Linked DNA regions of Homo sapiens: region 2 is linked to region 1. A link means that fine-mapping ties the variant in region 1 to the expression of a gene that starts in the linked region. Tissue or cell type: whole blood. Region 1 holds a variant in brackets; the other region holds the start of a gene. All regions are shown on one strand. Distances are between the middles of the regions.

The links. PIP is the estimated chance that this variant, and not a neighbour inherited with it, causes the effect.
Region 2: it holds the start of MTMR9, and the variant in region 1 is fine-mapped to the expression of MTMR9 in whole blood (TOPMed, PIP 0.99). The same link has a PIP of 0.9 or more in neutrophils.

The regions. Positions count from the first base shown.
Region 1 is chr8:11,364,743-11,373,005 of GRCh38, forward strand. FAM167A-AS1 (FAM167A antisense RNA 1) reads left to right here and starts at 3,660. Exons shown (of 7, transcript NR_026814.1): 1 at 3,660-3,710. It also overlaps the pseudogene TDH. The variant G/A (reference allele first, on the strand shown) is at 3,135.
Region 2 is chr8:11,280,496-11,288,495 of GRCh38, forward strand. MTMR9 (myotubularin related protein 9) reads left to right here and starts at 4,321. Exons shown (of 10, transcript NM_015458.4): 1 at 4,321-4,575. The coding sequence starts at 4,394. It overlaps LINC00529 (long intergenic non-protein coding RNA 529), which reads right to left and starts at 3,536. Exons shown (of 5, transcript NR_170283.1): 1 at 3,356-3,536; 2 at 794-926. RefSeq lists silencers at 458-507, 4,000-4,409 and enhancers at 3,290-3,379, 3,470-3,529, 3,805-4,306.

The sequences.
Region 1 (8,263 bases):
GATGCCACAAAGCATGGCAAATTCGAGTGCAACCTGGAAGCCTGCACGAGACTGCCCATGATGTACATTGACGACTGCCTCAGAGCCACCCTGGAGGTCATGGAGGCCCCAGCTGAGTCCCTTTCCATGAGGACCTACAATGTCAGCGCCATGAGCTTCACACCCGAGGAGCTGGCCCAGGAGGTCCTCAAGCACGTGCCGGAATTCCAGATCACATACAACGTGGATGCCGTTCGCCAGGCCATAGGTTCGTACCCGGTGGCAAAGGCCTTTACTGTGAGTCCCTGGAGAATGTAAACCTTGGAAGGTTGAAGAGAGCATAGATCCTTCCCAAGGGTCCAGACACCTTTTGGAGAAGGAGCCTAGCCCAAGAAATTGTTGAGCCCAAGCTAGCAGATGCTTTGATTTTGGGGAATGATATCTAAAGTGGGTGAAATCATTCCATTCCAAATAAACAGCTTGTTAGCCTTTCATCATTTTTACAGTTTAAACATAAAGCAAGGAAAAATAGAAGCAACAGAGGTAGTATGAAAACAGCCCCAGGTTTTCAAATACTGTAACTTTGCCAATTTGTGGATGGAAGCACCTCTTTGAGTATAAAACTTCTTATGAAGTTGTGTGAGATTTTGATAATGTGTGAAAATTCACAGTGCCTGACGAAAGATGGGTTAATAGTCTTCGGCCCTAGGAGGGTGACTGTGCATAATGGCGGTTCTGCTTTACTCGAAGGAATTTCCTGTTTTGTACCTTGTACGGTAGACCTTTATATACAATGGTCAAGACCTTTTTGCAAATCCACAACCTGAATAACTTAAGCTAGTCTTGCGTATCTTTTCCTAGCGGATGGTTGGCCGATGAACTTTGATGACAGCAATGCTCGGAAGGACTGGGGGTGGAAACACGACTTTGATCTTCCAGAGTTGGTGACTGCCATGTTGAACTTCCATGGTTCTGAAAGCAGAGTTGCCCAAGCCAACTGAAAGAATCTGGAAGAGGAGCTCCTGTGTCCTGGTCCACTGTCAAGGGAGAACTGTCACAACTCCAAGGTTATAGACTCCAAGGAGCCTACATTATTTGGAACTGACTCATTGGACTAAATTTTGGCAGCTCATATTGAACTGCTAGACAAAGAATGGAGTTAACATTTAAGCATTTTCAGAATGTTGTAGGTATGGTGGTGGGACTTTTCAGTTTTTGCTGTTTGCCTGAACTTGTCTAAACACATTCCACAGAATAAGGCTTAAGTCATCATTAGTTTCCATTTCCTTAATTAGGATGAAGTGACTATTTCTGGGAAGCTGGGAGTATGTGACATTTGTGTTTAATTAAATTCAATTTAAATATTCCTCTTAAGACTCGATTATTCTCTTGACTAAAGACCAAAGATTACATTTTAAGGACTTTCAAAGAGGTACTCCTCATTTATAAGTATTCTTTACTATCCCAGCGAAAGTAAAACATGTTTGGTGTATTCATCCCATGTCTATCACATTCAAGATATTTTGACACTGCTTCAAAAATTATAATTTCTGGTTTTTCTGTAAGATGCTAGATCTGTGGGAAATTAAGAATTCAAAGATGATGTAACCAGCGAAGGGTAGCCCTGCTCTTATTTTGATTGCCCTCCTATTAGTGAGCTAAATGTAATTCCCAGGAACATAATTCCCTGACCTGGCAACATCAGCATCTAGGGAGATTGTCTAATACACAGGTTTCTGGGCTACATCCCTTTAGATTCACTCATTAAGTGCCAGGTGCCACTGGTTATTTGAATCCAGCTGAGGCCCACTAGTCAGACCAGTTTAGACCAATGCAGTTTTCTAAAGAGCACTTTCTTGTTGCATCTTTTTTTTTTAAGATATTCCTGGGTTGAGCTTTCAGAAGGGCTACTCTAAACCCTCTGATGCAATTACCGTATAGATACATACAGGTTAACTTTTTAAGTTGAAGTTAGGCCAAATCAATTTCTGATTGTATTTTATGGTAAGGGAATGAGTGTGTTCAGAAAATGCTTTCAATCCGGTCATTTAAAAAAATATTTCTGGTGCAATACTGTATAGACACGTACAGGTTAACTTTTTTCCAGCGACCTCGGAATGTACTGCATGTAAAATCACTAGGAAGTGAAACTTCCAGTTCCACAGATTAATCATGGATATATTTGATAACAGCTATCAAGGATTAAAAGGCGTTTATTTATGTTGCATGCTTAATAACAAAATGTTATGCATTTGGAGTTTTGAACTGTTAGGTCAAAGCGTGGATTTTTTTGAAGGCATAACTGGATTTAAAATCTATTTGACTATTAACTGGAGAACTTTTAGGTAATTGAATTGTTTAACAGTTACATTACTGTAGCTTTTTCCTCCACTTAATAAGGTTTATGTTTGTAGATTTTATTTTTTTGTTATTTTTCTTTTGGGCTGCTCTTGAGAGGCAGGAAGATTTTATTTTTTAAAATCAGAAAGTTAGTAATGAATTCTTTTTTTGAAAGTTTGAGATATAGTTTACATACCATAAAATTCACTCATTTATAGTTCTGTGGTTTTCAATGTATTAAAAAGTTTTGCAACCATCACTATAATCTAATTTTAGGCCATTTCATCACCCCACAAAGAAATCATATTATATAAGCCCTTCCCACCCTCGGCAACCACTAATGTACTTCTTCTGTCCCTGGGTTTGTCTGTTCTGAGCATTTTATGTAAGTGGAATGTGGTTGTCTTTTAGTGGCTTCTTTAATTAAGCAGTCCATTTTCAAGGTTCATCCATGTTTTAGCATGTATCACTACTTCATTTTTTATTGCTAAGTAATATTCCATTGTATGAGTAATCCTCTTATTTTCTCTATCCATTCATCCATTGAGGGACATTTAGGTTTTTTGCACTTTTTAAGCTATTATGAATAATGCTGCTGTGAACATTTGGGTAGATAATTGAGTTTTAAAATGATTGCTTACTGTTTATAGTTTAAAAAACAGTTCTTAAGTTTGATTAATTTATTCTCAGTTATCTTAAAGGAACAAGCAATTCTTCCCTTTCATAAGATAAGAAGCAGCAACTCGAGTGACCTTTGTCTCCTAGACCCTAACCTTCCAGCATTTCTACCAGGCTCCTAGAATGACCTTTAATTC[G/A]GATCATTTGGAGGGGTTTGTTCCAAACAGGTTCCTTGAATCTTTCCCAATCTGTAAACACACCTCCAGGAGATCTCAAATAAGAGTGAAAAAATAATGAATGCTTCAGCTTCTTTGGATGATTCTTATTCACTGACATCTTTGTACTCCAAGACTAGAATTAGAGTTGTCCCTTCTGTCTGAACACTCAGTATCTGGTGCACATCTTGGGATCCCGGAGCCCATCAATGTTTTCCTGTAAAATGCTTTCCGTTCTGTTGGGAGAAAGGGTTTTTTATGATTAATTTGGAAATAACCCAAAAAGCTATTTGAAGGAAAAGTGGGTTTAACCACAAAAATAGTTTATTTATAAATAAAAAAGAAAGAATACAAAGATTGGCTTTGTTCTGATGTTTTACACAGGCTACCGGTGGTTATTAGTTTTCTGCTCACATGTTTGTGTGTGGCGTTGCTGGGATGTGCCTTGTGTTGCTACACAAACAGCGATCCCGAAGTCTGCCAGCAAGATAGATGGCCTGGAGTCCAGAACAGACTGGATTAGTGAAAGCTACTGCAGTGCTTTGGACACTTACTATGGTAGGTGGGAGATATTTAGTATTTTTTAATTCACATAGGCCAAATCACCAATTTGTGATTGTATTTTATGGTAAGGGTGTTCAGAAAATGCTTTAAATTCTGTCATTTTAAAAAAATGTTTATTAAGAGTTCAGACAATTTAAAAGATATATAATAAAGTTGTCTTCCCCTCCAAACCCAATCAATAACATGTTAGCAGTGTAGTGTGGGACCCAGTGCAGTGGCTCACACCTGTAATCAGTACTTTAGGAGGCTGAGGCAGGAGGATTGCTTAAAGCCAGGAGTTCAAGACCAGCCTGGACAACATAGCAAGACTCTCATCTCTACAAAAATAATTTAAGCCAGATGTGGTGATGCACACCTGTAGCTGCTACTCACGTGGCTGAAGCTGAGGGATCACTTGTAGCCAGGAGTTTGAGGCTGCAATGAGCTATGCTTGCGCCACCATACTCCAGCCTGAGCCACAGAGCGAGACCATCTCAAACAACAACACACAAAAAAACTAGTGTATACCTTTTATTTTCTCCTGTGCTTATACAATCTAGGAGTGGAAGGTGAAACCTTTTTCTTTTCTTTTACTATAAAAGTAGTGCTAAGACAATATTGTCAAAAGTTTTGGAAAAGACTCACTTTCAATTTTTGCCATGTCACATGGTAGCTGTTTTAAAATATTCTCCAGTCCTCTATGCGTTACAAAGAACTTACATGTAGTTTTAACATTTGCCATTTAAAGATAGCTGCATAACTCGTTGAATGGAGTATCATAATGATGTCATTCTATTTAATTGCTGAAACCTAGAAGTACAATTACTGGGTCACAGGGCGTAAACACCTACTTGCCTCTTCATTTTATGTGGTCAAATTTATCTTCGGAACGAGTTGGATTAATTTGTGATGAAATTCTCGACCATCAACACCTTCCTCTTGGCACATATTCATGGACCTCAGTATGGTTTACATTTGTTGAAAAGTTTTATTTTTGTGGCTGGGTGCAATGACTCATACTTGTAATCCCAGCACTTTTGGGAGGCTGAGGCAACAGGATCAGTTGAAAGTTTTATTTTTCTAAAAGGTTTGAAGAATATAAACTTCATTTTTTGCTGGAGAATCTTAACATTCTAATACAAGAGCCGTGAGTGAATAAATCCTAGATCTCACATAACCGGATGATAACTGCCTCTAAATCAGTGAATTGCTTCCAAAAATCACCGGTGAGAAAGGAATCTTGTTTTTTAATGATTTTTTTTTAGGGTAGTCACTTTAAAAAAAATTATTTCATGGCACTGTTTTTATAGCTTTAGTATGTTTGTCTATAAGGTAGCTAAACAGGCCACCCCTTACCTTCCAATGTGAAGATCCCAGAAAACTTTTTTTTAGCCAACTTACATATATAAAGTTTAGGATTGTAGATGAGAGGATAAAATAGACACCTGTACTATTAGTTGCAGGTGTTTCAGATTTGTTAATCTATTAACCAGCATGTGGGCTTTCCCTCTTCACATTCGCATTTCAGGCATGTCACTCCGACTTCGTATTTGATCTTGGTGCCCCCTTTGGCATCCCCTAATAGGTTAAGAGCAGATGATCTTTTTTCTTTCTAAGTTGTTTGGGATGCAGCAGTTTCGGGGTCTATGTATGATGCTGTTGGTGGACATTTATCCCAAGCCACAAGTATGCCTGTGTGTAGGTAGCACTAGGGCAGCTGCTTTTCAGAATCCACAGAGCATTGCTTTCGATTTTTAACAGGCTTCTTTCCAGTGACACCAAATACTTGTAACTGTAGCTTTATAATCCTAGAGACCGTGACTGTTAATGTGCCTCCTTTACAACTTATCCTACCAGCCACAATATTAGCATTGCTTAAGGTTGTTTGAGGCTAATAATGTTTCCACAGAACAATAACTTGTATTCTTTTCAGGTTACCGACAGCATTTAGTATATCCTGAAAGAGTGTAATGTTTCAAATATAAGGTGAGCATCCCTAAGGGGATAGTTTCGGGAGATAACTCTGCCTTATTTTGGGAGTATATGTGATACCTTGTCTGTTGATCCATTTGTCTGAAGTCCTTAAGAAAAGCTTTTCTCTTTTGTTAAAAGGTCAAAAATTTAAAAATTATTTTGCCCAGTTCTTTCTTTACGCTGTAAGTACAATTCTTCTGTACCTACATTGCTGTAAGAAGTTTAAATATAATTTGTAATTTAAGTTGTAGTATGAAAGAATGAACCAGAACAAGTAGCTGCCTCCAAGGTTGTACTTTCCCAATTTTTTAATATTCAAGGCACCTAGAAAATGTATCATTAAAAATATGTTATTAAAATATGCTGTTATTTGTAATACACACTATTATTTTTATGTTCTAAGAAAGGAAGAAAACTTGCATTTAAATAGACACAATGGCCAAGTGCAGTGGCTGATGCCTGTAATCCCAGCACTTTGAGAGGCTGAGGGAGGAGGATCGCTTGAGTCCAGGAGTTCAAGACCAGCCTGGGCAACACAGGGAGACCCTGTCTCTACAAAAATTGGCTGGGTGTCATGGTGTGAGCCTGTAGTCCCAGCTAGTTGGGAGGCTGAGGTGGGAGGATAACTTCAGCCCAGGAGGCAGAGGCTGAAGTGACTATGATCAGAGCATTGCACTCCACCCTGGGCAACAGAGCCAGACCCTATCTCTGAAAAAAACAAAAGAAAAAAGAAACAGAACGCTTTCTTGTTGTTTGGACTTTTTACTTTGTATCCCATTGAGGAGCTCTTTGAGACTTTGCTAGATGCAGATGTTATCACTTGCGCATCTGTAGAAACGGATCTAGAAATGTATGTTTGTTTGTTTTCCTGAAACTTCGGGTTTTGCTTTTCTGAATCACTTTTTGACTCAGTGGTTGGTGTCTCTGGTTTTTCCACCCAGTGTTGTTCTCTGTGCCAGTATGAGTTTTATGTCAGAGCACTCCTTAAAAGAATTCATAAAACCTAAAAGTCACTGGCACTGTAAACCAGCTTTATAGTTACGCCAATCTCGCCTACTTTTGACACCTGCTTTAGGAATGTGCTAACTCTATTTGGTTTGCCCAAAACCTTAAACTCTTTGGTTCCTAGGAGTTACAATGATGGCTGAATGTTTCTCCTGGCCTCTGACACCCACTGCGCAGGGTTCAGTGCTGTGTTTGGAAGGTGCCTATGTCACCAATAGGCAATGCTAGCACTATTACAATCACAACCTGTACAAAAGAAGTTGTAGGATAATCCTGATTTCAAATACGTAAAAATCTGGAAGAAAATGTGAGTCTTAGCAGAGGGTGAGATGTGGTTGCATTTGCAACCACTAGTGTGCCAGGGCAGTCCCCGCCCTGCTCAGACTGCTACCTCGAGGGCTGAAACGATCCCAGGAAAGCTCAGCAGTAGATGGTCACTGCAGGGCTCACACCTTCCTTTCGCATGGCTGGGGAGGGGGGCGTTAGCAGATGTGGTGGGCACTAAAGGAGTTGCTAAGGTTGGCAGCAAAGTGCCAGGCCTCATGGGAGAAAAGAGGAGATGGGATATGAGCTGCCAGGAGACAACGGTTGGGAAGAGCAGATTGTCCCATGGGGGGTTAGGTCCTGTGTGGTTCCTAGGATGCGATCCATCCTTTTTGTTCCATAAAATGTTAGGCGATGCTTTCGTGTCCCATTAGTGGAGCTGCAGCACCGGAGGCTGCTGCAGAGGGCTGGAAGGGACCGTGAGTAGGTAGGCGGGGCAGGGCTCCCCACTCTCTTGATCACACCACCGTCTTCTGAGTTATAAAAGGAAGAAAGACTTGTTGTTTCTAGAATATTTTGTTAAAGATACAGTGCTCATCTACCAAGGCGTCTAGATCTCAGATTATGTGTCAAGATGAAACCAAAAATCTTCAAGAAAAATTTATGCTGCATAGTCCTTTTCCCTCCCCTCCCCCCGCCAGGACAGGGTCTTGCTCTGTCACCCAGGCTGGAATGTAATGGTGCAATCTTGGCTCACTGCAACCTCTGCCTCCCAGGTTCAAGCGATTCTCCTGCCTCAGCCTCCAGAGTAGCTGGGATTACAGGCACACACCACCACACCCAACTAATTTTTGTATTTTTACTAGAGACAGGGTTTCGCCATGTTGGCCAGGCTGGTCTTGAACTCCTGGCCTCAGGTGATCCATCTGCCTCGGCCTCCCAATGTGCTGGAATTACAGACGTGATTCACCGTGCATGGCCAGTACTTTTTCAGTATTATCTGAAATTAACAACCTGAGAGGTTGAGGTCCCATTTTAAGTATCTACCTACTTTCTTTTTAAGTTTTTAATTAATTTTTTTAAATGTAAGAATTTTACATGGTAAAATTCAGGCAGCACAAATGGGTAAATACAGTGAAAAGTGTGTCTGTCCTTCAGCTGCCCTCTCCAGAGGCAACCATGACTGGGTGCAGATTTGCACATTCAGCTACATATATACCTATTTATGTGTGTGTGTGTGTATGTGTGTGTATTTCCCTTATTTTTCTAAAGCATGAATATTATGTACATTCCTTTTTCACTTGACAACCTAGGAGACTTTTCAA
Region 2 (8,000 bases), 84 kb before region 1:
GAGCGCTGGTTACAGAATTTTCTGGGGCTTAATTTTTTTATTTTTTTGAGGCGGAGTCTTGTTCTGTCACCCAGGCTGGAGTGCGGTGGCACATTCTTGGCTCACTGCAACCTACACCTCCCAGGTTCAAGCAATTCTCCTGCTTCAGCCTCCCCAATAGCTGGGATTACAGGCCCACACCACACCTGGCTAATTTTTGTAATTTTAGTAGAGATAGGGTTTCACCATGTCGGTTGGCCAGGCTAGTCTGGAACTCCTAACCTTGTGATCCACCCTCCTCAGCCTCCCAAAGTGGTGGGATTACAGGTGTGAGCCATCGTGCAGCATGGGGTTTAAATAGCCTCTAGAGGTTTCCCATTGGTTACTTGGTTACACCCTATGTAAATGAAGGAGTGGCCCGTCACAAGTCTGACTGATCATGGGAGGTGACCAATCAGAGTCTGAAGTGACGGTAGTTACAAAGTTACACATGAAGACTTGGCCTGCAACCAGTCTGAATGGTTGTGGGAGGGGACCAATCAGAGGTACTTTCCATTTTTCATTTGCAGTGCAGTGCAAAGGGAGTAGCCTCTGATCCTTTCGTTACATTCGTGTGAAGAGGTGGGGTTTCCCCTCTGATTCAGTTCTAGGAAGTCAGTGAGAATTGGCCTTAGGTTCCCTGCCTCTAGACCCTATTCTCCTGTCTCATTTTCCCGCTGTGAGACATGATCCCCATAAATCTTTATGGGAGGCAGAGGGACCAATGGTCTTTCTTCTGTAACTGCTTCATGCTGACTTGGGGTGCGGTGCCTACCTATTTGGGATCACAGAACTCTCACTCTGCTCTGTCTAGTGGATACAGGGTAGCTTCTTGATGGCCAGTAGTGGTGTCTTCACCTGAACTGGCTGGAAACCTTGTTGCATGATCATCTGAAGCTTGATGGTCTCTAGGCGAGAGGAAATTAATTTGGTTAATGTATTTAATAAATATGGTCCAAAAACCAAGGCAAGTATAATTAACAACGAGCCAGTCAGAGGAAGGACTCATGAACCCCTAATTAGCATTTTTGAACAGGAGGACCACGACTTGGACAGCTGTTGTCGTATCTTAGAAGCCTGGTCAGCTAATTTCTGGGTGGCATCCCTTACTAATTCTAATTGGTTGACATAAAAACAGCATTCTTCCTCTAGAAAAAGACATAAGCCACCTTTTCCAGCAGTTAGGAGATCCAGTCCCCTTCTATTTTGTAAAGCAACTGCTGCCAAGGAGTCTGTTTGAGTTTGTGTTGTGACGATACTTTGGGCAATGTCATCCAAGCTTTCCACAAAATCCTTGGAAAGTGCTGGTAACAGTATAGGGAAGTTGCAAGCCCGGTAACTCCCGTTCCTGCTCTCACTGTTATTCCTAGCCCAACAAAAAGGCGTTTGAGTTGGATTGCTCATTTGTGTCTGGCGGTTGCAGTTAAAGGTATAATGAGGGATTGGTTGTTGAGAGCTCTCCCTCTCTCTCTCTAAATATATATATATATATACACATATATATATAGTTTGTTTGTTTTGAGACAGTCTCCCTCTGTCACCCAGGCTGGAGCACAGTGGCTCAGTCTTGGCTCACTGCAACCTCTGTCTCCAGGGTTCAAGTGATTCTCCTGTCTCAGTCTCCAGAGTAGCTGGGATTACAGGTGTGCGCCACCATACCCGGCTAATTTTTTGTATTTTTAGTAGAAACAGGGTTTCAGCATGTTGGCCAGGCTGGTCTCGAACTCCTGACCTCAGGTGATCCGCCTGCCTCGGCCTCCCAAAGTGCTGGGATTATAGGCGTGAGAAACTGCGCCCGGCCGGGAGCTATATTGATTTCGGAGGCTAAAAACCAAGTGTACAGGTTCCAGTCCAATTGGCTGGTAAACACAGTAGGAACTGGTGCTGCACAGGGAAAAGGTTCCTTGTTTTTCAAGACAAAAATTGTTTTCCATGGTGAACATGTGGGTTAGCTTGTTGTTTTCACTTTCCCAAGTGGTTAAGTTTCCTACTAAAGTGGCCAAGCGAAAATGTCAACCCAGCTAGTGGGCCCACCTTCACAGTACTTAGACTGTGCATCCTTTAAAGTGCCCTTAACTAGGGATGGTTTCCATGAAAAGCATACAGGTTTTCTAAACGATGCAGTTTGGTTAATTGCATAGCTTACATGATTGTGTGAGGGTTAATTTCTGGGGTGTGGTTGCATTGAAGACTTCAAGTTCCCACGACCTGAACAGAATTTTGGCTTCTTTCAATACAAAGTGGCATCTGGAATTTTAGCTCTGTGTATGTTGATGTTGGGCCCCTAATGGGTTTCTGTGGGAATGCACCCTCAAAAAGGTTGCTCTGATTGGACTGGAGAGGGTTTACTGCTCATCCTGTCATTTTAACCTTTGTCATTTCCATACTTTTGAAGTCTTATAAGTCATCCAGATTCATTAATTCAAAGGGAGTTCCTCCCTGGTAGTTGGAATGATAGGTCATTTTTTTCAAGGACCCAAGATCGGGCTGGGATAGGGATGGCAGTGTATCTGGATGAAGATAGGAGATAAACAAAGCCAACAGTCCTTTGCCAGAGCTGAGCTGGTGGTATTTAACAGTCTTTGCATTAAATTTAAAGTTCTTAATAAATACCCAGAATCTATTAATTGCCAGAGGGGTAAAGTGAAGCTCTGTTGTAAAATAAAGCTGATTCCCTGTATGCGGTGTCCCTGTGTATACTGGGTGTATACTGGGTGTCCATTATGGAACAAAAAAAAAATACTTATTTGCTATTTTGTTCTATAGAATGGGAACTTCAGGGGGTGGATACCTGTGCTGTCAGGAATGCTAGTTATAAAAATGAATTAAAACACTTCATATATTACAAAGGAAGTGATTCCATCTATTTGGACGAAAGCAATTAAACTGCAAAAATATAAAAAATGGCAACTATTATTCAGTCTACAGTAACTATGCAACAAAGACACCAAGGAAAGTTGGTAGGCATTTACGTATCTCACTTAAAACAAGTCTATAAAGTGGTTTATTTTAAGAAGGGTACATTTTAAGAAGGACAAAATCAAAAGCATGGACAAGTGTTGGATGAGCTGATGAGGTTGTGGCAATTTACTTTGTGAATACTGTGAGAGTTTGTCCAACTCGCTGTGCTTAGGTACTAGATGGTGAGGATTTAAAAGGTCAATGAAGTCACAGCAGACCAGCACTCAAACATATTTCTCTTCTATTTCCTACTTTTGAATAAAAATGTCAGAAGTGGGCGGTGGGAAAGGAACAAGCAAAGGAGTAATTATTTGAATAAATTTTTGGCGAAACGTGGGTGTCTGACGGGGAGGCTGTGCGGTGGTGACCAACGCACCCATGCGCTGGGTTTCACAGATGCAGACTGAAGTCCAGGCTCTGCTGCAGATTAACGGGGTGGCCGCCAGCAAGTCAAGTGACTTGCTCTTCTGTGCACTGCATGTACTTGGGTTCCTCTCACAGGTATTCCTGTTTTTCCTCTTTCTTGCTCCAGGTTACACCTCGTGGCGCGGCGCTCTCGGAGAGCCTGTGGAGTGGCCCTGTGTCCCTCCCTGACCCCTGGAGGATTCCGTAAGGTCACAGTCACCGCCTCCATCCCCTACTTGCCATGTCTTCAGGGCTAATGCATAACAATTATCACAATTTACAGCAGCCCCACGCTCTGAAGAGCTTCTGGAGGGGATACTACTCAAGCGGAGGAAGGCAAGACAGGGACCTCCTCCCTCTTCCCGGACCTCTTCTGATAAGGAATATTTGTAGGTGGTTAAGAAAGGCAGCGGGAGGGCGTGAAGGCAAAGACAAGCTTTTTTTCTCGTAGGAACACACATCTTCTGGTCTGGCTGTGTTTCCGGAGGCATTTCCAGAGGACCTAGCGAGGACCAACTTCCGGCTGCGACTTCCGCGTCTTCCGAGTTTCGAGACCTGCTGCTTCCGCCCGGAGTTGTTGTGGGCTCCAGCAGCGAGTAGCCACTTCCGCTAGGAGTCCCTAGCGGCCAGGGCGTGGAAGCGGATTCTGAGGCGGCTTTCTCCTACTGCCCTCCGCTTGCCAACGCGGGACCCGGAGCCCAACGGCAGCGGCGGTCCTTGGGCCTGTGGAGAGGGGTTCTCTGTGGCCGAGTCCTAGGCCTGGTGAACCGCGCGGTGCGGGAGAGGCGCTTGGGCCTCGTCCAGCCCCAGCCCCTGTCTCCCCGCGGCCGGTGCCGGCGGCTGTAGGCCTCGCCGCGCCCACCCAGCCTGGGGCGGGCCCAGCCTCACCGCCCGGCCCGCCCCGCCCCACGGGCCAGCCCCGCGCCGGGTGTTTCCGCTACTTCCCTGCGGCGGGGTAACCGCCTCGCACCTACCGGGCTCGGTTCCCTGGCTCCGGCCGCGGGGGAGCATGGAGTTTGCGGAGCTGATTAAGACCCCGCGGGTGGACAATGTGGTGCTGCACCGGCCTTTCTACCCGGCTGTCGAGGGCACCCTGTGCCTGACGGGCCACCACTTGATCCTGTCCTCCCGGCAGGACAATACGGAGGAGCTGTGGCTCCTCCATTCAAACATCGACGCCATCGACAAGCGGTGAGTGCCCGCCCCACCCCAGCTCCGCAGGGAGCCGGGGGTCCCTTGTGGGCGCCCCGGGAAATACTTCCTGGCGTTTTCCGCGCAGCCTGCCGCCCAGCTAGCCGGCAAGATGAGCCCTCTGTGGCCTAGAATCAGGATTTACCAAGCTGAAACCCGTCCAGATGGAGGACCCGGTTTCCATTAAACCTGGATGGAGTTCTCAGGGTTATCGTGTGGCTGGTACCATCCTGATGATCATTTCTGGTTCGTAACACCATTTGGGTGGATTTTCGGCATTGTCTTTATAAATTTCTTCTTCTTCTTGCCCCATCGTATTCCTTGAATTGGTATTGTCAGTCACCGTTCATGAAGTGATTGGATGTGATTTAGGTAAAGTCTTTACCATTTCTGAGGAAAACTAAACAGATTATAAAGTTATGAGTGTCTACATGCTACAGAACCATTTTTTTAATTTCTGAAAAATGTTCAGTGTATCATATTATTTCTTACCTTCTGGGTCATCAAAATTTAATTCTCACTAAGGGAGATTCTGATGTCTTCTCTTCATCTTTACTCAATTCTGCTTGCTGAAAGAACAGGGTTGGCTCTCAAGGAAAGGCATGGACCAGTTAACCTCTTTTTTCTTTTTGTACTCCAGACTTTATCTTTCCAAGGCAGTGCCTCGAAGTCAAAAAGTTAAACTTTCATCTGCATTCAAAATTCCCATCTCCTTAGTGGCTACTCGCTAGCCAGGAGAGGGCAAACTGATTATCCGTTTTACACAGAAGTATAAATGAATGACGACAACATTTTCTATTGCCTCACAGGATAATTTGGATATTAGGAAGATTCGTACAGAGGATATGCCTTAAAATAATAATCTCTTTCTTTCTTTCTTTTTTTTTTTTTTTTTTTTTTGGAGACGAAATCTCACTGTATTGCCCAGGCTGGAGTGCGGTGGCCAATCTCGGCTCACTGTAACCTCCACCTCCCAGGTTCTAGCGATTCTTCTGTCTCAGCCTCCCGAGTAGCTGGGATTACAGGCACGCGCCACCACACCCGGCTAATTTTTGTATTTTTTAGTAGAGATGGGGTTTCACCATATTGACCAGGCTGGTCTTGAACTCCTGACCTCGCAATCCTCCCGCCTAGGCCTCCCACAGTTCTGGGATTACAGGCGTGAGCCACTGCGCCTGGCCTAAAATAAAAATTTCTAATGGTAGAATTGCAGGCAGTTTGGGTGAAGCCATGGTAGATTGATTGATTGATATGAGCAGGGGGCTCTTATTAGTCTCCTCAAGCCACCTTTTGCTGTATAAAGTCTTCAGTGGGCCCGGCACGGTGGCTCACGCCTGTAATCCCAGCACTTTGGGAGGCCAAGGTGAGCGGATCACCTGAGGTTAGGAGTTTGAGACCAGCCTGACCAACATGATGAAAGCCCGTCTCTACTAAAAATACAAAAAATTAACCGGGCATAGTGGCAGGTGCCTGTAATCCCAGTTACTCAGGAGGCTGAGGCGGAAAAATCGCTTGAACCTTGGAAGCAGAGGTTGCAGTGAGCCGAGATCGGGCCACTGCACTCCTTCCTTTGCAACAAGAGCAAAACTCCATCTCAAAAAAAAAAAAAAAAAAAAAAAAAGTCTTCAGTGGTCTCTCATTGAAAATCTAAACCCCTCAGTCATTCATGGCATTCTGTGTCTCGGCCCTATCCTACTTTCTCACTTTATTTCTTGCCATTTCTTTTAACGAGCCTTTCTTGCACTTGCTTTCATGAACGCTTTTTACCAGCCAGTCCTCACTATTTACTGGTGCTGGTATATGTCCTGTATTCTGTCATCTGTGTATTTTATTGACTTCTTCCTTCTGCTGGAATGCCTTGCCTCTCCCAAGTTTGTTTAACATTTGCCAAATGCCTTTATGTTCTGGACGTTTTGTTAGGCATTTAAGACACCAAGGTAAATAAAATATGTTACAGTTCTTGTCTTTCAGGAGTTCACAGGCAATGAGCCTGTTACCTGTCTATGAGTATTCAGTTTAACCATTTCGACCGCTACCTCCTTCACAAATTCTTCTGTTAATTCCACAACTGGAATTCATTTTTATCTCCTTCGAAACGTCTAACTGTGGCTTGGGCATATAGACGCGTAGGAAACAAAAGAAGGATTGACCGCTGAATGGTCAGATGCCGTTGAATACAACTGAGTAGTTTCTCCATGACCATCAACTACCTTTCCTTTCTTATTTACCTTTTATGGTGGTTACTTTGCGCTCATTTGTTTCCTCCTTTTTACCTTGCATTTACAAGGTGCTGGGCTTTGTAGTACATGAAGAAGAAGCAGATGAGCCATGGACCTTTGAATCTGTTAGGAGAGAATGACGAACTGTACACACATTTATCCTTTTCCTGGGAAGCAGCGTGGTGTAGTGAAAGAGCATAGGGGAGGCATCAGATCAGAGTTTGTTAAATTGCTGCTTTCAAGAAATCTTTACATCCACCTGTTTTCCACGTGCATTGTCTGAGCTGTGCGGCTGCAGTGGTGACTAAGACAAGATGCTTAGGTACTGGCCAGGGAGATGGACAATCAAGCAAGTCCAGAAATAAATATATATATTTATTAGATATATTTATATTTATTATGTTTATTATATATTATATATATTATAATATATATTATATATTATATATTATTTTCTTATATATTTATTATTTATTTATTATATATTTATTATATATTATATATAATACATATTATATAATACATATAATATATAATATATAACATTATATATTTTATTATATATGTTATATATTATATTATAATATATAACATATATAATACGTATTATATATAACATAATATGTATTATATATTATATAATATGTGTTATATATCATACGTATTATATACTATGTATTATATATGTATTATATAATATATATTACATATAATACATAGTATATAATACGTATGATATATAATATATATTATATAATACGTATTATATAATATATATTATATTTCACCTATATAATATATATAATTATTCACCTAATTATATTAAATAATTATTCACCTAAATATTCACCTAATTATTCAGCGAATAGGTGAATAATTATTTATTCACCTATTCACCTAATACATGTAATTATTATATATAATATATTAATAATTATAATATATAATAATAATAATTATATTATAATAATTATATATTATAATATAGTATAATATAGCATATAATATATATTATAATATGTATATATAATATATATACATAAATATATAATATATTTATATATATATAATATATATATAATGATGTCAGGTAATAAGGGCCAGGAAGGAAAGTAACGGAAGATGAGAGGATAAAGAGCACTGGGAGGCAGTTTCCTTAGAAAGGATTTCAGAGAAGGCAGGTGACATCTGACTACAGACCGGAAT